7 linked regions of the Homo sapiens genome follow. The protein of the gene in region 1 purifies or fractionates together with the protein of each later gene. This does not show direct contact. Each region holds a gene or a part of one and is shown in the gene's direction. Other genes may lie near its edges. The genes, in order: TMPRSS11B, SLC16A10, DIPK1A, MR1, TM9SF3, ABHD17B and LRFN3.

Region 1 (3,500 bases):
GTCTCAACCTTATGACCCCATTTAACCATAATTCTCCCTTAAAGATCATGTCTCCAAATACAGTCACATTGGTGTTTAGGGCTTCAACATATGAATTTTGGAGGGGATACAATTCAATCCACAGTAAAAATCAAGTGAAAATTAATTTTAAAATGGTACCTTGAACTGATAGAATTCTCCAGTAAAATTATAACTGGAATCAGAAATCTAAACATAATGGTTTCTCAGAATCTGGGCATGATGTATGAGACTTTTGACAAATTAATCTACCTACTTGTAAATACCCTGGTTCAGTATTCTGGATGTAACACAAAGTTAGCAGATTCTAATTATTTACTTTAGTCATTTGGTGACAAGCTTCACAGATGAAAATGATAAAATAGTAGAAAGAAGAGGGTCTTAGAGTTTATCTATTGTAATTTAGTTTTTGTTTGTTTTTCTTTGTTTTTTGTTTTGTTTTGTTTTTTGGAGATGGAGTCTCACTCTATCTCCCAGGCTGGAGTGCAGTGGTGTGACCTCAGCAAACTGCAACCTCTGCCTCCCAGATTCAAGCAATTCTCCCGCCTCAGCCTCTCAAGTAGCTGGGACTACCAGCGTTCGCCAACACTCCTGGCTAATTTTTTTTTTTTTTTTTAGTAGAGATGGGGTTTCACCATGTTGGCTAGGCTGGTCTTGAACCCCTGACCTCAAGTGATCCTCTCACCTCTGCCTCCAAAGTTCTGGGATTACAGCTGGGAGCCACCGCACCAGGCTGCAATTTAGTTTTTGTGATTAATAAAGAAAATCCCAGCGGGCTAAATATGCCAAGACAGCACAGCTGATTTGTGATGGGGCTGGAACTAGCTCCTCTAGCTTCATATGCATTCATCTTTTCAGGTAACTTCTCAGACAGACTTTGGCATTGGACTTTTGTATATATTGGTTACCATAAGGAAAAATATAAGAATCTATAGGAATATAGGAAATCAGTTTTTATTTTATTTTAAAATTATTTCTAACTTACAGGGTAATAAATTATTTCAGCTTAGGAGATCATACTTTTCAGTAACTTAGAGACTACATGGTGTATGTTAAAGGTGGATCAAAAGCACAATTGCTCTCAAAATACAGGAATGGCTAATTACTTAACCAAAACAGGGTATTCTTTCATATTAGTTCTTTTTATTTTATTTTTTTTGACATGAGGGTCTCACTCTGTCACCAAGTCTGGAGTGCAGTGGTGCAATTACAGCTCACTGTAGACTTGAACTCCTGGGCCCAAGCAATTCTCCCACTTCAGCTTCCTCAGTAGCTGGGACTACAGGCACGTGCCACCATGCCCAGCAAATTTTTTAAGTTTTTTGTAGAGACAGGCTCTCACTATGCTGTCCAGGCTGGTCTTGAACCCCTGGACTCAAGCAGTCCTCCCAACTTGACTTCAAAAACTGCTAGGACTATAGGCATAATCCACTGCATCTTGGTAATTCCTATTTTTAAGAGGCTTGTCCTGTTTTAAATTATGGTGACCTAATGTATCACGTGAAGCAGTTTATATTTGGGGAAAGGAAAAGATGGGGATATGAGACCTTGTGACTCACACAAAGCACCACCCATCATATGCTGTAGGGAAATAAAAGGGCACCATGCTTTTACACTGTTGGGAGTGTAAATTAGTTCAACCACTGTGGAAGACAGTGAGATGATTCCTCAAGGATCTAGAACCAGAAATACCATTTGACCCAGCAATCCCATTACTGAGTATATACCCAAAGGATGATAAATCATTATCATTCTACTATAAAGACATATGCACCCTTATGTTTATTGCAGCACTGTTCACAATAGCAAAGACTTAGAACCAACCCAAATGCCCATCAATGATAGACTGGGTAAAGAAAATATGGCACATATACACCATGGAGTACTATTCAGCCATAAAAAGAATGAGTTCATGTCTTTTGCAGGGACATGGATGAAGCTGGAAACCATCATTCTCAGCAAACTAACACAGGAACAGAAAACCAAACACCACATGTTCTCACTCATAAGTGGGAGCTGAACAATGAAAACACATGGACACAGGGAGGGGAACATCACACACCAGGGTTGGCAGGGAGGTGGAGGCACTAGTGGAGGGATAGCATTAGGAGAAATAACTAATGTAGATGGCAGGTTGATGGGTACAGCAAACCACTATGGCACGTGTATACCTATGTGACAAATCTGCATGTTCTGCACGTGTATCCCAGAAGTTAAAGTATAATAATAATAATAATAATAATAATAATAATAATAATAATGGCACCATGGTGTCCTCCAGGAATAACATCAAGGAATGGAAACCAGGCCAGCAGGCAAAGGGCATACAAAAGGGTGCAAGACAGTGTATATCATCCAGAAAGTGAAGGGTGACTGATGCTTGTATGTTTCCTGTATTAGAATTGCTTAGAAAGATTAATTGGGTAATTGCTAGGCTGAGTTTAGACTATACATGTAAAAGATGTTTTATATCTAGTGCATACTCAGGTGGATTGTTAGTGACTGTGGGCATTGCTGTTTTGAGGAGGGTGCTGAGGGTATATCTGGACTTAGCAGGACAGTAATGTCTATTATCACATAAAGGGAAAGCGGGGATCATTGAATGAATGATATGGAGTTGCCATTTCTGGAATAAACAATTGTTCACTCCTCTCCTTTTATTTTTCTCCCTCCCTTGGATTATTTCTAAAGCTGGGTTGAATGTTGAGGCAGAGGTATAAATGGTTAAGGCAGAGGTATAAATGTTGAGGCAGAGGTATAAATGTTAAGGCAGAGGTATAAATGGTTGAGGCAGAGGTATAAATGGATTATTTCTAAAGCTGGGTGGAATGTTGAGGCAGAGGTATAAATCGCTTTAAAGTCACTTTCCACTTTAAAATTCTTTGAGGTTTTTTTTTCTTAATTTTGCAGAGAAGACTTACTATTATCAAGGTGATTTTCATATTTCTGGAGTCACATACAATGATAATTGTGAAAACGCAGCTTCACAAGCCAGCACAAATCTAAGCAAAGATATTGAGACTAAGGTAAATCAGAGATTTTTAAAATTAATTTTATTATAAATTTGATTGAAACATACATGATGACTGTTTTTTTTCTCTTGTCAGATGTTAAATGCATTTCAAAATTCCAGTATATATAAGGAATATGTCAAATCTGAGGTCATCAAACTTCTGTAAGTACAAGTTCATTTAAGATTTTATGAAAGGAAAGTAGGTGATATATCATACAACCTTGATTTTAGATAACAATAACAACAAAAAACAAACATAAAGAAAAAGAGAAACAAAGGAAAGGAAAGAAAGAAAGGAAGGAACGAAGGAAATAGAAAAAAAAAGAAAAAGAAAGATCAAGTTCTCCATGAATGAAAGTATCATTGTATCTAGCAAATTTCTGTTCTGGGCAAGAGTCATTATATACAAATCTTTAATCTTATACCTGCAAAAGAATTATAAGGTTATTGGTGGTGGTCAGTCCTAACT
Region 2 (3,500 bases), on another chromosome or scaffold:
GTAGTCCCAGCTACTCAGGAGGCTGAGGCAAGAGGATTGCTTGAGCATAGCAGGTCAAGTCTGCAGTGAGCTGTGGTTGCACCACTGCACTCCAGCCTGGGTGACAAAATGAGACCTTGTCTACAAAAAGGAAAAAAAAATTTGTTCTGCTCTACTATACATGCTGACTTTTGTTGATAGCTTGGTCTAAAAAGACTGTCTAGAGCTGAATTTAAGAATGGTTCTGGAGCAAATAATAACAAGGTAGACAAGCAGGCCCTGGGCTCACTATAATTTCATAGCCACGACCTGTTTATTATTAGTTGGCAGAGATTAATGCTTTGTGTTATAAATATACTATAGAACAATAGGTCACGATTCTCAAGAACAAAGCCGAATGCTCGCAGTTAAGTGTGAAGCTTGCATAAGTGTCGGAACCACAATTATGGACCCACCATCAATGTGCATTTTATCAGATGACTCCTCCTGAGACAGTAAAGACTCCTGGAAAATTCATGACATCTTTGAATCACTCAGAAAAATCTTGAAACTCAGGACGTAGTTTACTTAGCTTGCCTTTTTTAAAATTATCAAATTTTAAATCGTAAACTTTGTCTTCACTTCCACACGTTCAAGGACACCTCTTTTAAAGTTCAGTGTTCCATACTAAAGGGGTGTAATCTTGCTTTCTGGGGAAATAAAATTCCCCATGGTACTATATTCCTGACAGATATAAAATAACATGAGGCTACCTCATTTTTGAAATAGATTTCAATATTTTTATTAGTAAGTTGGAAAGACAGTAGGAACAAAATGAAACCTTTCTAAGTACTTGATGACACCCACTTGATCATGACAATTCATCTACCTCCGCTTTCCGTGTCCAGCTGAAAGCCCAGCTGAGTCAACTCCTGCTTCATCAGAAGGGAGCTAATGGTGATTCTGGGATTAAAAAGCAAGGGGGGTGCAAATTGTTAGTGGGGTCAAAATATCAGTAAAATTTCTTAAGTGCTTTGTTCTGATAAACGGATGTAAAAGTAACAAAAAAGGAATAACAACTAATATGGCCTGTGGATCTGACAAAGAAAAACCTGAAGAAATTCAGAATCTAGATACACTTAGATTCTAAATTAGACACACTCAGATTCTAATGAACACTTAGAATGCTTCGCCAGTGGCTTTTCAAGTTACACTGGAAGCTTGATTATGAAAAAGTTTTGTTTTCATTGGCAAGAGGGTAGATGATCAGTGATGACAGATTGTACAGCTGTGCCCAAACCTGACAACTTACACATTAAACTCCTGTAAGAGACACTCCTTCCTAGTAGAACAAGGACTGGGACAATGAATTTTTGACTCACTGGAGTTTTTTAAAATGCTGTTCTTGAGTGTGGCAATAGTGTAGGAGTTAACCCAGTCTACCCAAAGAAGTTGCTTTGCCTTTCAATATGAGTGCTATAAAAAGAGTATTTTGGAGTTCAATGTCCCTAAACATGTATGCGATAGGAACTACCAATATAAAATAACACTTAGAACTCAAATTAGATTGGTAATACTATTTTGGAGCCTGTGATGTATGACTTTTATTCTTTACTAGATATTTTTCAGTATCCGTCATTAGAAGAGTCAGTTTGTTAAATATTTTAAATGTGTAAACACAAAACCTTTCTACTGTGATCTTCCCTAATGAGTCAAAGTATCTTTCATAATTCAGTCTATATTGAAATGTTATTTCAGGAATGGAGGGTTTGTTATTAATAGTGCTGGGCCGGGCACGGTGACTCATGCCTGTAATCCCAGCACTTTGGGAGGCCGAGACAGGCGAATCACCTGAGGTCAGATGTTGGAGACCAGCCTGACCAACATGGAGAAACCCCATCTCTACCAAAAATACAAAATTAGCCGGGCGTGGTGGCTCCATGCTGTAATCCCAGCTACTCGGGAGGCTGAGGCAGGAGAATTGCTTGAACCCAGGAGGTGGAGGTTGCAGTGAGCCAAGATTGCACCATAGCACTCCAGCCTGGGCAACAAGAGCAAAACTCTGTCTCAAAAAAAAAAAAAAAAAAAATAGTGCTGCATTTTGACCCTGGACTATGAACAGACTGTATAGTTGGTGCCTCTTTTTTTTCTACCAAAGATTATTAGATCAAGATTGGTGCTATACTTCATGTTCCTTTCAAAATTATTTTTCTTTTAAAAATATTAATATACAACACAATAGAAAATGTATACAGCCAGCAACGTTATGCATGTTGCATGTTATATACATGACTGAGGAAAAAAGCTCACCTATACAGTGATTATTGAGTTCCAGTATCTAGTTAGAGGTATGCAATTTTTGTTAACATATAAGACTTTAAATTACGAAACTCACAAGAAAATGATCACCAAATGAGAATGTTCTAATGAACACAACCTCCCAAGGTAATAATTTTAAAGAAAAAGTCCCTTGTCAATGTTTCTAGCACAAAGTGAGGGATTTAAATATATTCTGTAACTTTGAGGCAATGTGAAAAAGTTATATATAATAGCTTCCTATTGAGCTGGCTTATGTAGACATTTGGACATTTGAAACTATTTCGCAACTTTCAGGCTAAAATCAGAGTTTTGAGAGTCATCAATCTTAAAACATGGATAATGAGTTATTTGCACAGTTATATTTTTATAATTATTTGAAATTTATCACTGAAAGTATCATTGTTTGTCTTTCAGATTTAACATAAACAATAAGTACTGCGGCTGGGTCACTGTCAGCAAATCTCAGGTCTATGATTTATCAAGGGCTCTCAGCACCATCGTTGGTCTGATTGTGTAACACCTAAGTAAAATAACATATGGGTCTCCTTGGCCAGGCGCCGTGGCTCACACCTGTAATCCCAGCACTTTGGGAGGCCAAGGCAGGCGGATTGCTTGAGGCCAGGAGTTCGAGACATACGGGTCTCTTTAATGTTCTGTAGGTAGGATTCAGATGAATTGAGAATGACAGGTTTCTTTTTCTTTCTTTGTTTCTTTTTTTTTTTTTTTTTTGAGATGGAGTCTTGCTCTATTGCCAGGCTCCATATAGTGGCGCGATCTCAGCTCACTGCAACCTCCGCCTCCCGGGCTCAAGTGATTCTCGTGCCTCAGTCTTCTGAGTAGCTGGGACTACAGGTGCCCACTACCACACCGGCTAATTTTTGTATTTTTGGTAGAGATGGAGTTTCACCATGTTGGCCAGACTGGCCTTAAGTGATCCACCTGCCTCAGCCTCCCCAAGTGCTGGAATTACAGGCATGAGCCACCATGCCCGGCTAGAGAATGACAGGTTTCAGTTGAATTCTTCTCTTTTAAAAGACCCTGACTTAACTGTATTTTATGAGGATTTTATAAATGTAAATTAAGAAGACAATACACACTCTCATTTTCCTAATTAGAAAGACTATGCATTCACAATCCAGTACACTGGATTTGCTCTGGTAACTAATGATAACACTTTTCTACGTTAACATGAGTTATATTTGGCAGAGAGAATGGAAGCTTGC
Region 3 (2,398 bases), on another chromosome or scaffold:
ATTTCTTCTCATGGTGATACTTCAAGATAAAGAACATACCCCCAAATTAATGGGATTCTGTGGTGACCTCTATGTGATGGAAAGTGTTGAATATACCTCTCTTTATGGAATAAGCCTTCCTTGGGTCATTGAACTTTTTATTCCATCTGGGTTCAGAAGAAGCATGGATCAGCTGTTCACACCATCATGGCCAAGAAAGGCCAAAATAGCCATAGGACTTCTAGAATTTGTGGAAGATGTTTTCCATGGCCCCTACGGAAATTTCCTCATGTGCGATACTAGTGCCAAAAACCTAGGATATAATGATAAGTATGATTTGAAAATGGTGGATATGAGAAAAATTGTGCCAGAGACAAACCTGAAAGAACTTATTAAGGATCGTCACTGTGAGTCTGATTTGGACTGTGTCTATGGCACAGATTGTAGAACTAGCTGTGATCAGAGTACAATGAAGTGTACTTCAGAAGTGATACAACCAAACTTGGCAAAAGCTTGTCAGTTACTCAAAGACTACCTACTGCGTGGTGCTCCAAGTGAAATTCGTGAAGAATTAGAAAAGCAGCTTTATTCTTGTATTGCTCTCAAAGTCACAGCAAATCAAATGGAAATGGAACATTCTTTGATACTAAATAACCTAAAAACATTATTGTGGAAGAAAATTTCCTACACTAATGACTCTTAGTTCATTTGGACATAATTACCATTTTAAGAAACCTGCCACTTTTAAAGAACAATTTTGAGCATTAAAAAAAAATGGCTTCAAATTCCGGCCAGTTACACAAAACTCCTTCCCCCCAGGCCTGAGAAGCCATCAGTATGTGATCACTGAAGTAATGGCAGGTGTAGGATCAACAGGTCCCCAAGATGTCATTCCTGCCCTTTTAGAAGCCCTGTTACATCTCCGAAGTACATTCATTGTGTAACTATTTTGACTGACTTTAAAAACCAATGCTGTGAAAAGCTTCATTCCATAAACATCAACAGTGAGTGATTTGTAGATTTACCTTAGCCAAAATACCAATGCTGGAAGCATTGTGTTTGCATTGAAGCTGCTGTTCAACAAGAAAATTTATAAATTTACTAATGTCTTAGCATGGTAAAGTTTGCACATTAACAGAAATTAAGACTGCAAAGCAGGTTAAACTTGCTTCTTTATAAAACAGATGTTGGGTTAATAGCATGGTTTACTGTATTAAAGACTTATACACCCATTTTTAACCTCATTCAGACATCAAGTTATGTGTAGCTTCACAATGGTTCAAGTGGCTTACTTCAAGAAATCTTATACTTGACAGTACACCAATTTTATTGACTAAAAATGGATGAACTTTCCTAAAGATTCAAAGGGCCCATCTTAGTATCACGCAGCTGACTGAGCCCTTCAAAACTGACATCTTAAGGCCCAATCAAGATCCACATATCCTGATTTTGAACTATGTGAAAGTGGGACTGTAAGTGCAAGACTAAAATAAATTATAGCAGACTTTTTAGTAATAACTTTCCATTTTCAAACAGTATATCCTGTGGGCCAAAGGGCTATTTCTTAAAGAGGCATGTAAATGTATTTATTTATCTAATGTTTTTTTCCCCATGTAAACTTGATATACAAGGTTTAGTATTTGCTCCTCTTTCATATTATTTTCACACGTATACTCAGATTTGGCATGTACCTTTCAACATCTCCATAAAATTAAACACCTTTTGGAGAAAAGAACCACTATTTTCTGCTCAAAGGTTTCGCCTACCTAAAGTGGAACATGTTAAAAATCTATGTGACCATCACTGGACAGCTTTCTCTCAAAACTTTCCTTCAACGCCATGGATTAGCACCAGTTTTGTTTACTTTAAGGTACTTTTCCCATTCATCATCTGGTTATAATAAATGGATGGAAGAAATATTTCCCACTGATGGTTGGTCTGTTGCTTGCCAAATTTTTAGGGAGAGCTGTTCATCATACAACATAAGGGATAATGACTCCTGTCAGGTAAAACAGAAGCCCAAGAAATAACAACTTTTTTTCTTAAAAAGTTAGTTACACTTGTTTTCTTGGAGAAAAAAACCTGTCAACTCCTTTGCTTTTCCAAAATATTTCAGGGTATTTCCTATAAGGTTCATAAGAATAAGAGCTTAACACAGAAATAGTTGCTGTTCATAAGTTTATTATCTATATCTGAAAAAATCATAGAAAATTGCTGGGTTTAGCTCTCAGCAGCCCGCTCCTGAGCTCTGAGGAAGCTTGCCTTCTTTTGAGCTACCCGATCCTTCTTCTGAGCAAGGGACATTTTGGGACGGTTCCACCTACAAAAGATAGGAATATATATTTTTTAAACTATAACTGAAGAGAATAGAATATTTAATTTAAAATTTTAATAAAATTTAATTTTGATAGAGAATATT
Region 4 (3,500 bases), on another chromosome or scaffold:
TGTCAATCAACTTCCCACCACAGCAGAGGTAACATTTTAAAGGCCCAGCTAAGGAGCAAGCATGACTTGTTCCTGTGGAGGCACCAGATGGGTAACTGGGCCCATGGCAAATGAAGAGGAAGGGACTGTGATGTCCTGGAGCAGAGCCACGCTGGGCTGAACCAGTGGTGGATGGGTGTGACTGAAAAAGCAAGTCCAGCCTTTAGGTGCCTGGACTTTGAAGTCAAGGCTGGCTGGTGGAGAACAACTGTTTCAAAACCAGGCATCAGAATTAGATTGAAGTTAAAAAAAAAAAAAACCCAGAAAGAAAGAAAGACACAGCCAGGCACGGTGGCTCATGTCTGTAATCCCAGCACTTTGGGAGGCCAAGGCAGGGGGAATCATGAGGTAGGAGTTCAAGACCAGCCTGGCCAACGTGGTGAAACCCCATCTCTACTAAAAATAAAAAAATTAGCTGGGTGTAGTGGCAGGCGCCTGTAATCTCAGCTACTTGGGAGGCTGAGGCAGGAGAATCGCTTGAACCTGGGAGGCAGAGGTTGCAGTGAGCAGAGACTGTGCCACTGCACTCCAGCCCGGGTGACAGAGTGAGACTCTGTCTCAATAAATAAATAAATAAATAAATAAATAAATAAATAAATAAAGCACAATACTTACTTGGACAGTATTGTCAACAGACCATATTTCTCTCTATCTACCTCTTTTAACTTCAGATAATGCAAATTCTTGTGAAAATTACATTTTTATAAGAAAGCAAAGTTACATGAATTGTAAATATTATGTTTGGAGATGATGCTGGTGATACTTAACTGGAATAAATCCTGCTATTGGGCACTAATGCCCCAAGTTGTTAATACTGGAGGTTTTTTTGCTTGTTGGCATCTATCAGGAATGTAGACCTCAGAGATCATAAAAATAGAAAACCCAGATTCCAGGGGATGTTCTACACCAACCCAGCTTAGCTCAGCAACACAGCATCTTTTTTTCTTCCTTCTTTTTTCTCCTCTCCACATTCTCTGTCTGGAGTCTGCTCTCCGTGGGGATTTTTTCCCATGAAAAACTATGGAAGTGATTCCTCCCTCTTTCTTTTCCCCTCACTCCCTCAACTCCAGCCACAGGCCTTTGTGCTGCTCCTGGAATGTGCCAGGCATGTTCTTTCCAGGGGCCTTTGCATGGCCCTTCTTGTCCAGACTGCTGTCCCCAGACACCTGCCTGTCTCCCCAACTCCTTGCAGGCACTTGCTCAGAATTCAGCTTTGTGGGAAACCTTCCTTAATACGCCTTCCTTTTTTAAATAGTGTTGCCCATTCCTCTTTGCAGTTTTATTTTTCTTCACTGTACTTTAAAAAAATTATATATTTTATTTTCTAGTCTGTCTTCTCCCCTTCCCCCGACTAGGGTGTAGACTCCATGAGGGCAGACATTTTTATCTGTTTGGTCTGGTACAAGCTTAGGGCCTAGAAGAGTGGCTGGCACAGAAGAAGCATTGGATATACAAATCAATATTAAGGAAGTGTGAGAACTAATATTCACAACTTGTTCCTCCTTTTGGGTCCTCCTTCTTTAGACAGTTGTGTACCTCCAGTGTAGCCACAAAACTTTCCAGATGTGAAAAAATAGAACTATTTCAAAATCAATTGCAGAATATATATAGTACCCTTTGCAGATCCCAGATTGCAGTTCAACTCTCCATTCACCAGCCTTCCCTTGAATCAAAGATAATTTTTTTTTTTTTTTTTTTGAGATGGAGTCTCGCTCTTGTTGCCCAGGCTGGAGTGCAGTGGCGCGATCTCGGCTCACCACAACCTCCACCTCCCAGGTTCAAGCGATTCTCCTGCCTCACCTCCCTAGTAGCTGGGATTACAGGCATGCGCCACCATGCCTGGCTAATTTTATATTTTTAGTAGAGATGGGGTTTCTCCATGTTGGTCAGGCTGGTCTTGAACTCCTGACCTTAGGTGATCCACCCACCTCGGCCTCCAAAAGTGCTGGGATTAGAGGCGTGAGCCACCGCGCCCGGCCAAATCAAAAATATTTTTTAGGCCAGGTGCGGTGGCTCACGCCTGTAATCCCAGCACTTTGGGAGACCAAGGCAGGCAGATCACCTGAGGTCGGGAGTTCAAGACCAGCCTGGCCAACGTGGCAAAAACCCGTCTATACTAAAAAAAAATACAAAAATTAGCCAGGCGTGATGGTGGGCACCTGTAATCCCAGCTACTTGGGAGGCTGGGGCAGGGAGAATTGCCTGAAGCAGGGAGGCAGAGGCCGCAGTGAGCCGAGATCACGCCACTGCACTCCAACCTGGGCGACAGAATGAGACTCTGTCTCAAAAAAGATCCAGGTTAAATAGATTCATATTCATTTCAGCATATTTCATTATTCCAAACCACAGAAATAAAGTGTTTCACCAACAATTTAATTCACCCAATATTTACCAAGCTACTACCATGTGCCAAGCTCCCTGTGCTAAGCTTTGCAGGAAATACAAAGGAAAAAAGCAAAGTCCCTGTTCTTAAGTGCTTTAAGATTGAGAAGCAGGTAGAAGGTAGTAAGCAGAGGGAAACAGAAGGCAGAATCTGGTAGCTATTGGTTTTACGACAGAACTCATGCTCTGATGCAATCTCTGGCTCTTGTTTGCATAAGAACCAACACTTTTATGAAGAGGCTCTCATGACTACCCCAGAGGCTTCCACTGTCTTCCCTCCCAACCCAAGCCCTCACCCACCACAGGAAGGGAAGGGGGAAGTAAAAGGTCAAAGCAATACAGAGGGACATTGGGACCTTATGCTGCCCCAGCCTGTGGGAGGCCAGCCTCCATCCTGTTCAGTATTGCAGCTGACATGCAGGATAACACCTGTGAGGGAGGAGCCCATGGGGCGGGGATACCTACTCTGAACCCTGCCAAACTGCTACACCCCAGCTCCAGGAGCAAGGAGAAAGAAGTGCTAACAATGATTTTAATTGCTGGGCGTGGTGGCTCACATCTCTAATCCCAGCACTTTGGGAGGCCAAAGTGGGAGGATCACTTAAGGCCAGGAATTTGAGACCAGCCTGGGCAACACAGACCCTGTCTCTATTAAAAAGAAGTGGTGACGTGCTTATAATCCCAGCTACTCAGGAGGCTGAGGTGAGAGGACCACTTAAGCCCAGGAATTCAAGGCTACAGTGAGCTGTGATCATGCCGCTGCACTCCAGCTGGGCAACAGAGTAAAACCCTGTCATACACACACACACATATGCACACACATACATACACTAACTAGTACAATCAGTTGCTCTGGGAGATACCTCTCAGGGCCTCTTGTTTTTCCTAGTATGCAAGGTAAGGGTACCCTGGCCTTGGGGTGGTCAGTTCTGAAAGATAACCTGCACATTATGAGTTATTTCATAAGCAGTTTTAGAGAAAAGAAAAATATAAACAAACTTGTAGCACAGAAGCTAATCCAACTATTTTGTGAGCTGATTTTTTTTTTTTGTCTGATCTTTTTTTTTTTTTTTTTTTTG
Region 5 (3,500 bases), on another chromosome or scaffold:
TTTTTAGTGAACAAATATGTGCAGGCCTTAATTGGGATGAGGTGAAGGAGATAGAATAAAAGACCAATATAGCATTACAAGCCTTCCTAATCAATGACAAAATTCATTCAGTTCAGTATATACACAGAGATAAGCAGGAGAAACTTTATTCTGAGATTTGCATGAAAATGAGTTAACCTGGCTGTGATATCTCCAGTATACTGATATTTGGTATAGAACTCCTTTGAGCTATATATATCTTATTACAGTTGAAAGTGTTTTAAAAAGAAACTATTTTCAAAAGGATACTCAAATCAAATGCTTGTGGAATCCCAGAAGCTCTTCAGTAGGACCTGAGAGTTCTTTGGAACAGTTTGAAAACCATTCTTCTAGACCATGTAATTCAACATAGGAATGTTTTCTTCATTTTCTCTGTAATTCTTATTTGAAATTAGAGTTCTGGTAAACTAAGGGAAAAATATATAGGTCTTTATTACAATGTGTTAAGGTTTATGAGTCTTGTAGTTATTAAGAAAGTAAAAGCAAAAATTGAGATGGAATTTATCACTCCCCATATTTACGACATATGTATAGTTCATAACATAATGCTTAAACTATCTTAAAAACACCTGCTTATTTTTCACATTTCACGTATTTTAATATGAGCATAAATTCATATTATTCATAGGCCTAGGCCTAAACTGAAACGCAGATAAATTGAGTTCCTGAGTCTGATGTTTAAAATGGTATTATGGAGCTCTGTAATTCTCACATATTTATATTTGATCTGAAAAGGAGATGACAGTACCCTTTGGCTTGTTTAAAAACACATATACACACACAAAAGGATCTAATGAAGAATTTTTACTAATATTGGTTCAAAGAGATCTTTCCTTCTTGTGCAATCACTGTGGATTTCCTACCCCATACCTCTTCATTTCTCTCAATCAGTGTCTTCACATGTTTCATTCAGTTTTTCTCTCACTTTTACTTTCTATTTATTATAACCTAAAGTGTATAATTTAAAGACATCTTAGAGGTGATTCAATTCTACTCCATTTTACAGAAGTTCAGAGTGAAATGATCTTAATTAGATGGTTGGCCGGAAAAGAGCTGATTTTATAAAGAAAAAAAGTCACAAAAATAAATGTTTCTAATTGGCCACTTTGGTTCTAAAATCTCCGTATGGTCTTCTCTGTAATTTTAGACTTTGCACTACTAATGGGCAGGAAAATATTTGTACTATTTTACTAGTGACACATAGATAGCGATCTCCTTCTATTAGGATTCCAAGGTAGTGTAGGATAGAAAAGAGTGTGGGCTTTGAGGCTGGCAGATCTGAGTTGAAATTTTGGTCTGGCTCTCCACTAGCTATGCAATTATGGGAAGTTACTTATCCTTCTCTGAGTCTCCTTTCCTTCATTTGCAAAATAAGAAAATAACACATATAAAGCTCTTAGTGCATTTTATGAGCTCAAAAAGCATAGCCAGATAAGTAAGTTGGTTATAATAATGAAAGACAATGGATAAATATATTAAAAAAGCATGACAGCTGAGAGTGAAAGAGGAGAAAAAGGGATTGTGGCAGAGATAGTCTGGAAGAATAGGAAAGAATGGAAAACCAAATTGGATAAGAACTAGTTCAACTTGTATTCAGTTTAGTTCTAATACTTTAAAGCACACCTTTTTGTTTTCATTAGTGTACTTCTTGCACAATTTTAGCTCATATTGAACTTAAACATTTTCTTTTGTGGTCAAATTGTGTTTAAATTGTGTCTCTTTTATTTGTTTATATTAATGTTATTGTTCTCTGAGTAATCACACATTTTTATTTAATTTACAGGTGGCCGTTTGTTGCATCTGTTTTTTTGTTATTCTTCCTCTAAATCTTGTTGGTACAATACTTGGCCGAAATCTGTCAGGTCAGCCCAACTTTCCTTGTCGTGTCAATGCTGTGCCTCGTCCTATACCGGAGAAAAAATGGTAAAGAGAATGCTAAATCTTATGCGATTGTTTCACACAATATATAAGTTCTTAAGGCTGTTGTGTACATGTAACTTTAGAATTGGTATGTATTTATGATAATGACAATCTTAAGTTTGAGCCTAAGAAGTTCATTTTACTATTTCCTTTAACCTACATTGTTAAGAGTAATAATAAATTATACCCTTATTCCACTTTCTGAATATCGTGCCATTTAGAGTTAAGTCAAATGCTTTTCTATGGTGTAGAAGTGGGTGTGAACTAAAGCTGCAGTTTTACTAATCTGCAGGCCAAATCTGGCCTGCTCCCTGTTTTTATCTATAAAGTTTTGTTGGAACTCAGCCATGCCCATTTGTTTACATATTCTCTGTGGCTGCTTTTATAGTACAGCATCAGAGCTGGCAGATCAGTAATGTCAGAGATACTATCACATGCAGAACCTGAAATATTTACTATCTTTCCAGATATTTTAGTACTGTACAATTTAGTGTACATTTATTACATTCCCTATTTATAGGAATAGTTGTATAGTAAGTAGACTGCATTTTTATGATAACGGAGATATATATATATAAAGTCTCTGTCCCTAGATATTTTACCAGATTATAAATACAGCATATTCAGGTGCTTATACAAATAGGTGATAATTTTGCTCTGTCCCTTCTAGACATGGAGGCATGTAGACATTTATAGAAATGGAGGATGAATAAAATAGCCCCTATAGTTTGAATTGGCCATATTCTTTTCTTTCCTTAGATTGGTGCTTATGAGAGACTTTAGTTAGAACTTTTGTAGTTTATTATTTTATTTATTTATTTATTTTATTATTATTATTATTTTTGAGATGAGGTCTCACTCTGTGGCCCAGGCTGGAGTGCAGTGGTGTGATCTCGGCTCACTGCAAGCTCCACTTCCTGGATTCATGCCATTCTTCCGCCTCAGCCTCCCGAGTAACTGGGACTACAGGTGCCCGCCACCACGCCTGGCTAATTTTTTGTATTTTTAGTAGAGATGGGGTTTCACCGTGTTAGCCAGGATGGTCTCGATCTACTAACCTCGTGATCTGCCCACCTCGGTCTCCCAAAGTGCTGGGATTACAGGCGTAAGCCACCACGCCCAGCCTGTAGTTTATTTTTTAAAGTAATTTTTTTTTTGTAAATCAGTATGTTAGGACCCATCAATATCCTTACTGGGAAGGGTAAGTTTAAAGGAAAAGCATAGTCAGAAGTCACAAAAGTTCCTCTAAGTCACTAGGGCCAGTGAAGGAGAGGTCTGGTGAGAGCTTCCTCACCAGAGATGCATTGCAATTAGGTATAGGAAGGCTTGTGTGTGCCTCTGTTTTGGGGAGTATAATCCTGGGAACCTAAATCTGAATACTAGATCTGCCTCTCATTGACTGTGTCACCTTGGGCAGATCACTTTTAACCTCTGTGTCTTGGCTTCCTGTAAAGTAAGGAAAGAAGACTACATTAAATGATTTTTAAGTTTTTTTTTCAGCTCTCAAATTTTACCATTTTCTTCTCAGTTTTTTAGTTTGT
Region 6 (3,500 bases), on another chromosome or scaffold:
ATATAGGCTATTCTTTATATTATATGAAAATAAAATATCTGACTTCCAGGATGTTTTAGACTGAAGCTATAGGATATAAAGAAAACTTACTGTTTCTAATTTAATGTTTAAATATTAAAGATTTCATTTAGTCAGGAAAAATTTCCTCAATTTTAATAATAAAGTAGTTAATATTATTAAAGATATTAAAAATATCTTTAAAACTATTTTTCCCTCCAAAGAAATGTAATAAAGTTATGCTCTCATAGCGAAGTTCTACATAAAAGGGATTCTTAAAATCAACTGAAATTATATAAAAACATAAATATGGGGAATAAGGAAAAAAAGATGGCAAGTAGTAGGTAAAGAGTTGATGGGGGATGGTAAAGTTATTGTTTAATTGATAAATTAAAAACTGCTTTAAATAAAAATCTTTTACATATATTGATATCAGTTCCATCAAGCCTTAAAACAAACAGAAACTGAGTGCCCACTTTTTAGAGTCAGTCAGTTGAATAACGTATAACAACTATAAGAAAGTATTATAATTAAAAAAATAGCTTTATTGAGTGATAAGGTTCACACTTTTAAAGGTTAACTTCAGTGGAATAATGAAGTTTTAAAGGGTGCTAAGTTAAAACTGATAGCCAGCTTTCATTATTAGTGCTTCCCAGTAACGCAAAAGGGTCACTTTACTCAAACAAAACATGTTAGTATTCAGTTCAGTGTTCTGTGTCTATATGAAAAAATCCCATTTTTTAAGTGGTCAACTTTACTGTTTTTTTCTTTTCTTTTCTTTTAATCTTGGCATTTACCAATTTGAAGAAAACTTTGAAAAATGATTTTCAGCCTTAATTTTTTTAACATATTTGATAGCCAGTGTTAATCAGGAATGGGCAGATTTCATCAATAATCCCACATACTATTTTAGCACTTATATTTTAGAATTTTAGACCTGTGTTTTCTTTCGTGTTGAAACCAAAATATAGTTGGAGTTTCATAAGTGTAGGTACTTTAGGAAATATTACTTCTCTGAGCCTGTGTTTCCTCATCTGTTTAATGAAGAGATTGAATTAAATGATCCCCAAGATCTTTTCCAATTCTGGAATTCTGTCATCTAATGAAATGTGTGTAATTAGAATACATGCCTTTTATTTTATTTGCCTGATTAAAAGTTAGGACTTAAGTAACCAGGAGAGAGAAAATAAATAATGAACTTAAATAATGTTCATTTTTGGGATGAATGAACATTGGAATGTCCTTTTTGGGAAAATTGGATATCCATAATAACTCCAATTTCTGACCTTCTGATGGACCAAAAGAAACTCGGGGCCTGGCATTCACTATGCACCTTTCCCACAAAGTCCTTGAGTTCCTCATCTGTGTGCTTCAGAGGTAAAAAACACTGAACTGGGAGTCAGTATACCTGGGTTCTAATTATAGAGCTGTCATCTACTGGTGACTTTGAAGATCTGCTCATTAGGCAGCTGGACTCTAGATTAGATGGTCTCTAAACTCCTTTCTAGCTCATACTGTTAGGCAGTTGTTACTCTTGTGAGTCCCCTCATGCTTAATTGTCAGCTACCTCTGCGACTCTATCCTTGAGCATTGTCATTGCTAGCTGTAGCCCAAATTTCATGATTGCCACCAACAATGCTGATATTCAGCTGACAGCAACAATGCAGCCTCAAGAACTGTGGTCATGCTGCAAATGTTCATTCTCCTAATTTCTTCATTCGTATGAAATATGTGCAACTAGGTCTGTTGTAAAGAAAAAAGCTTTTCTGAGTTTGCTAATATTTAGAGTCAATTTGAAGTAGACAGAGCCCCACTTTCTGTGTCCTATACAAATGCTTGTGTAGTACTGACTTGAAGAAACTATATGGGGAGAGCTGTGTTACTACCTGTATAGTTGAAATAGTATTATGCCCCTGGAAGAGAACACACGGACAGTTTCCCTCGCTCTTTCCTGGTGAATATCCAGATTCTTAGAAAGATATTTTACCTTTGCAAAAGATTTCCAAAAGCAGCTGTTATGTTCTTAGCTGCCAGAGTGACTGCTGTCTGCCTTCTAAGTGGAAAGGTGTATTTAATGTCACTATAACCTTTAAGCCCACATTCATTAGCTCAGGTAGCACTGTACTTACACTTGCAGTAGTTTACATTTGGGATGATTATACTGTAGACAAGTAGCAAGCAGTTCCTTGAACATACTAGGTACCCAATAAATATTTATTGAGTCAATGAGTTTTCATCTATTTAAACCTGTGGCCATTTTAAAGGGATTAAAATAGTACCTTGTAATTTTAGCGTAAAGTCTAATCATAAATAATTGGACCATGTGGTGTTTGGAATTCTTTTTTATCTTTTCAACCATTAGTCCATTTCTACAACTAAGCAAAGATCAATTTTAAGAAAAATCGTAAAATCATAATTTGCCCTTTACTAAAACCATACATATATTCATTTCATACCATAACTATATGTAACAGTTCATCAATATGACCAATTTTGGAAATTAAAATGAGCCACTCTTGATGTGTGGAGAAATAAATAACTTTTGTTACACTGAACGGAAAATAAATATGACCTATTCATTCAACATCAGTTCATTAAAATATTAGTGATATGCCCCAAGCTTAGTCAGCAGTAAGCTAGGTTGAAATATTATAGTGTAATAAATTATTTAATAAATTTATTTCTTAAGATTGAAATCTTAAAATACCTCAGCAATTATTCTTCCAAAAGATGAAGTAGAGAAACACATGAAATAAACTGATGATACAGACTTTATTGTAATGTTAAAACTAACAGTAATAGCTAAGAAACTTAAGTTTAAAAAATGGATTAGTTGACATTGTCTTATTCTAAGATCAAATCCTTTGGAATGATGGAACATTTCATATCACTCCAACTTTTTTGGTTTTTGTTTTTAACGCCTGAACTTTGTAGATATGGCATTCGCCCTGAAAATGTGATTATATATGGCCAAAGTATAGGGACAGTACCGTCTGTGGATCTTGCTGCTCGATATGAGAGTGCTGCTGTTATTCTTCATTCTCCTCTGACTTCGGGAATGCGAGTTGCCTTTCCTGATACCAAGAAGACCTACTGTTTTGATGCATTCCCAAAGTAAGTAGCAATATTCAAAATAGTTAAATTCCAAGAAACTTGGGAATTTTTTCATCATTTAAAGTATTCATGACACAGTTCACTCAACCATAAACTTCATTTTATATATATTAGCACATAGAAATTATGAAAAATTAATTTGTAAAGAGGGTATTAGCAGGTGACCAGTCAGAAGGCTGAAATGTTTGAGGAGTAGTAATCCAGATGAAAATTGCTGAGGGCCTTACACCTCAGGTGGTGGCACTAGTATTGGAGACAAGGGAATTAATTTGAAACATAAATTTGACAGAACTGAGTATCAGACTGGGTGTAGGATGCTAAAGAGAAAAACTTGAACATGACTACCATGTTTCTGCCCTGAGGTGCTAATGGATAGGGCCATCCAGTGA
Region 7 (3,500 bases), on another chromosome or scaffold:
AAAAAATTAGCTGAGTGTGGTGGCACGCGCCTGTAGTCCCAGCTACTCAGGAGGCTGAGGCAGGAGAATTGCTTGAACCTGGGAGGCGGAGGTTGCAGTGAGCCGAGGCTGTGCCACTGCACTCCAGCCTGGGTGACAGAGTGAGACTCCGTCTCAAAAAAAAAAAAAAAAAGTCACACAAGTCCTGGCCACCTTGCCAGGTGGGGAATGGGATGAATGCTGTCCTAGACAGTCACCCTGCCCCAGGCGGCCACGGAGTTCCCTGTACCTCTCTCATTAGAATAGCCTAGGAATAAAACAGGTGATAAGTCAACTCTCCAACAGGGTGCCCAACTACAAAAGAAACTATAGTGAAATTGGGTGGTAAGGATTAAAAGGAAACAAGAAAGAAAAAGATAAATAGAAACCAGCCAACAGAGATAAAAGAGAAGCAGGTGACAGAGCCGGAAAGAAATAAGGCAACAGGGAGAAAAAGAAAGCAGTAGTGACGGAGGCACATTAGTTTAATGAAAAGGGAATCAGACGACAGGACTCATTGGAAAACAGGCTATCAATACAGTCATCATAATAAGGCAATAGGGCTAGGGGGACATTTATTGGCAGGTTACAAGGAAATCGGGCAACAGGGGTACAGGGAGATCAGGTGGTTTGATTGGAGAGAATCCTAGCTGTACACTAGAGGAAAATCAGGCAGCTGGAAAAGGGAAATTTGGCATAGGCTGCAGGAAATAGGGGAACCAGAGGGAAATTGGCAAGCGTCTGGAGGAGACTGGGAGGTAAAATGTGGGGGAAATTGGATGGGGGTGGCTAGAAGACAAAAGGATTAAATTAGATGGAAATTGGACAGGGTTAGAGCAGAATTGGGTGGTGAACTGGAGAGATGACTGGCAGTGGGACCAGAGTGAAATCAGGCAGAGGATTGGGGCAAAATTGGGCAGGGAGGCTAGAGCGGAGCTGGGCTGCAGGCTGGAGGGAAATTGAGTGGGCAGTGCAAAAGGGAAATTGGGCAGTTGGGTATAAAATGAAACCGGCAAGGTGTGGTGGCTCACGCCTGTAATCCCAACACTTAAGGAGGCCAAGGCAGGAGGCTGGACTGCCTTGAGGCCAGGAGTTTGAGACCAGCCTGGGCAATATAGCAAGAGCCTGTCTCTACAAAAAATTTAAAAATTAGCTGGGCATGGTAGTGCACACCTGTAGTTCCTGCTACTCAGGAGGCTGAGGCCGGAGGATGGCTTGAGTCCAGGAGTCAGAGGCTGCAGTGAGCTGTGATCATGCCACTGCACTCCAGCTTGGGCAACAGAGCAAGACCCTGTCTATAAGAAAACAGAAAGAAAGAAAGAAAAGAAACAGGATGGATTGGAAGAACTCACGTGGTGAGCTGTTAGAGAAATTGGGTGGTGGGACTAGAGTGAAAATGGGCAGCAGGCTATGAGGACGTGTGAGAGGGTGGGCTAGAGTGAAATTGGCCAACAGACTGGAGGGGTATCAGTCAGGTGGCTGAATGGGATGTCAGACCAAAGGGAATTGGGATGTTGGTGAGAGGGAGCTCATTGGGTAGAATGAAATGAAGGAGTGGACTGGTGGGAAGTCTAGCCCCGCAGGGAGTTTGGTGGGGGAAGCACAGGTTGGGGGCTGGGCAGCCTGAGACCTGACCCCCACCTGCCTGCCCTGCAGGATGATCCCGGCGGAGAGCCGCTCGTTCCTGCTGACGGACCTGGCGTCAGGCCGGACCTACGATCTGTGCGTGCTCGCCGTGTATGAGGACAGCGCCACGGGGCTCACGGCCACGCGGCCTGTGGGCTGCGCCCGCTTCTCCACCGAACCTGCGCTGCGGCCATGCGGGGCGCCGCACGCTCCCTTCCTGGGCGGCACGATGATCATCGCGCTGGGCGGCGTCATCGTAGCCTCGGTACTGGTCTTCATCTTCGTGCTGCTAATGCGCTACAAGGTGCACGGCGGCCAGCCCCCCGGCAAGGCCAAGATTCCCGCGCCTGTTAGCAGCGTTTGCTCCCAGACCAACGGCGCCCTGGGCCCCACGCCCACGCCCGCCCCGCCCGCCCCGGAGCCCGCGGCGCTCAGGGCCCACACCGTGGTCCAGCTGGACTGCGAGCCCTGGGGGCCCGGCCACGAACCTGTGGGACCCTAGCCAGGCGCCCCCCCCTCTAAGGGTCCTCTGGCCCCACGGACAGCAGGACCCGGACACCCTGTGGGACCTGGCCTCAAACTCACCAAATCGCTCATGGTTTTTAAAACTCTGATGGGGAGGGTGTCGGGGACACCGGGGCAAAACAAGAAAGTCCTATTTTTCCAAGCTTGGGCGAAGACCCTTGCCCTCGTCTCTGTCTATGGGGGTTGGGGGACGGAGCAGGGGTCTGGAGCTGGGGAATGCCTCCTTTGGGGAGACACCCCCTCCCCGCCCAGTTCAGTCTGAGGACCCCGGAGGAGGCTGAGGATGGCGATCCATTCAGACAATAGATGTTCCCTGCGTGTCGGCTCTGAGCATGCCCTGGGTTGGGGGATGCTGTGGTGATCCAGATAGCCCTGAGCCCTGCCCGCAGGGGCCTAAAGTCAAATGGGAGACAGACACATCCCCAGACAGTGATAGCACAGAGTGACCAGGGATGTGGGGATGAGGGAAGCCTGGGGGATTGTGACAGTCCAGAAGAGGTACCCTTGCTCAGCCCCAGGTGTGGTCAGGGAGGGCTTCCTGGAGGAGGACACATGTGATCTGAGAATGACATATGAAGGAGATAACTGGGCAAAGAGCAGAAGGAAAGCTCTTTCAGGCAGAGGGCACAGCACAAGCAAGGTGGTGGTGTGCCCTGGGCACTGGGGGTGCTATGGTAGAGGTGAGGCAGGAGGGTTGAGCAGGGTCTAGGACCTCCAGGCTGAGGAGCTCAGACTCTGGCCTGATGATACCAGGGAGCCATGGAGGGTTGTATGCAAGGGAGGAATGGGGTCAGTTTGGGGCTTCAGGAAGATCCTTCTAGTGCTATGAGTAGGGTGGACCCAAGGGGAAGACTGAAGCTGGGAGCCCCAGGGGAAGCTGGGGCAGGGACCTGGGTGGGTGAGGACGAAGTTGGACCAGCTGGGCTAGGGAACAAGAAAAGGGAGTGGGTTGACAGAGACACTCGGGAAACTGTGGGAAGCTGAGGCGGTGGGTTATGGAGCTGCGGGGCCATGGGGTGGGGCAGGAAGATGGTGGGGACTGCCCTCATATAGGACCAGGGAGGAGGAGCAGGTTTGGGAAAGATGATATGGCCAGTGGGGAACTTGGTAGGTGTAGGGGGCCCTGAGGATGTCCAGGATGTGGCATTCAGGAGGGTGCAGGACCCCTGGTCTGAGGCTGAAGCTGGAAATAGAAATGAGGGCTTTGTCAGCAGAGATGGGAACTGACGCTGCTGGGGTTAAGACGGCTTCTTGTGGGGGATGATTCCAAGTCCCCACTATGGGACATTTTTTCTTTTTTCTTTTTTTTTTTTACAGATGGGGTCTCACTA

The links.
Region 2: the proteins of TMPRSS11B (region 1) and SLC16A10 purify together in Homo sapiens (affinity purification with mass spectrometry; 2 studies listed by BioGRID and IntAct, with this or other methods). This does not show direct contact.
Region 3: the proteins of TMPRSS11B (region 1) and DIPK1A purify together in Homo sapiens (affinity purification with mass spectrometry; 2 studies listed by BioGRID and IntAct, with this or other methods). This does not show direct contact.
Region 4: the proteins of TMPRSS11B (region 1) and MR1 purify together in Homo sapiens (affinity purification with mass spectrometry; 2 studies listed by BioGRID and IntAct, with this or other methods). This does not show direct contact.
Region 5: the proteins of TMPRSS11B (region 1) and TM9SF3 purify together in Homo sapiens (affinity purification with mass spectrometry; 2 studies listed by BioGRID and IntAct, with this or other methods). This does not show direct contact.
Region 6: the proteins of TMPRSS11B (region 1) and ABHD17B purify together in Homo sapiens (affinity purification with mass spectrometry; 2 studies listed by BioGRID and IntAct, with this or other methods). This does not show direct contact.
Region 7: the proteins of TMPRSS11B (region 1) and LRFN3 purify together in Homo sapiens (affinity purification with mass spectrometry; 2 studies listed by BioGRID and IntAct, with this or other methods). This does not show direct contact.

Annotation. Positions count from the first base shown.
Region 1 is NC_000004.12:68,235,695-68,239,194, reverse strand, and holds part of TMPRSS11B (transmembrane protease serine 11B), read left to right. Parts: intron 1-2,928; coding exon 2,929-3,044; intron 3,045-3,125; coding exon 3,126-3,193; intron 3,194-3,500. UniProt on the Homo sapiens protein: Serine protease.
Region 2 is NC_000006.12:111,227,003-111,230,502, forward strand, and holds part of SLC16A10 (monocarboxylate transporter 10), read left to right. Parts: 3' UTR 1-3,500. UniProt on the Homo sapiens protein: Sodium- and proton-independent thyroid hormones and aromatic acids transporter.
Region 3 is NC_000001.11:92,841,667-92,844,064, reverse strand, and holds the end of DIPK1A (divergent protein kinase domain 1A), read left to right. Parts: coding exon 1-682; 3' UTR 683-1,898; downstream 1,899-2,398. Other genes in the region: RPL5 (large ribosomal subunit protein uL18), read right to left, coding at 2,200-2,299.
Region 4 is NC_000001.11:181,040,483-181,043,982, forward strand, and holds part of MR1 (major histocompatibility complex class I-related protein 1 isoform 1 precursor), read left to right. Parts: intron 1-3,500. UniProt on the Homo sapiens protein: Antigen-presenting molecule specialized in displaying microbial pyrimidine-based metabolites to alpha-beta T cell receptors (TCR) on innate-type mucosal-associated invariant T (MAIT) cells.
Region 5 is NC_000010.11:96,531,513-96,535,012, reverse strand, and holds part of TM9SF3 (transmembrane 9 superfamily member 3 precursor), read left to right. Parts: intron 1-1,822; coding exon 1,823-1,962; intron 1,963-3,500.
Region 6 is NC_000009.12:71,869,694-71,873,193, reverse strand, and holds part of ABHD17B (alpha/beta hydrolase domain-containing protein 17B), read left to right. Parts: intron 1-2,931; coding exon 2,932-3,111; intron 3,112-3,500. UniProt on the Homo sapiens protein: Hydrolyzes fatty acids from S-acylated cysteine residues in proteins. Has depalmitoylating activity towards DLG4/PSD95. Has depalmitoylating activity towards GAP43. Has depalmitoylating activity towards MAP6. Has depalmitoylating activity towards NRAS.
Region 7 is NC_000019.10:35,942,874-35,946,373, forward strand, and holds part of LRFN3 (leucine-rich repeat and fibronectin type-III domain-containing protein 3 precursor), read left to right. Parts: intron 1-1,674; coding exon 1,675-2,146; 3' UTR 2,147-3,500. UniProt on the Homo sapiens protein: Cell adhesion molecule that mediates homophilic cell-cell adhesion in a Ca(2+)-independent manner. Promotes neurite outgrowth in hippocampal neurons.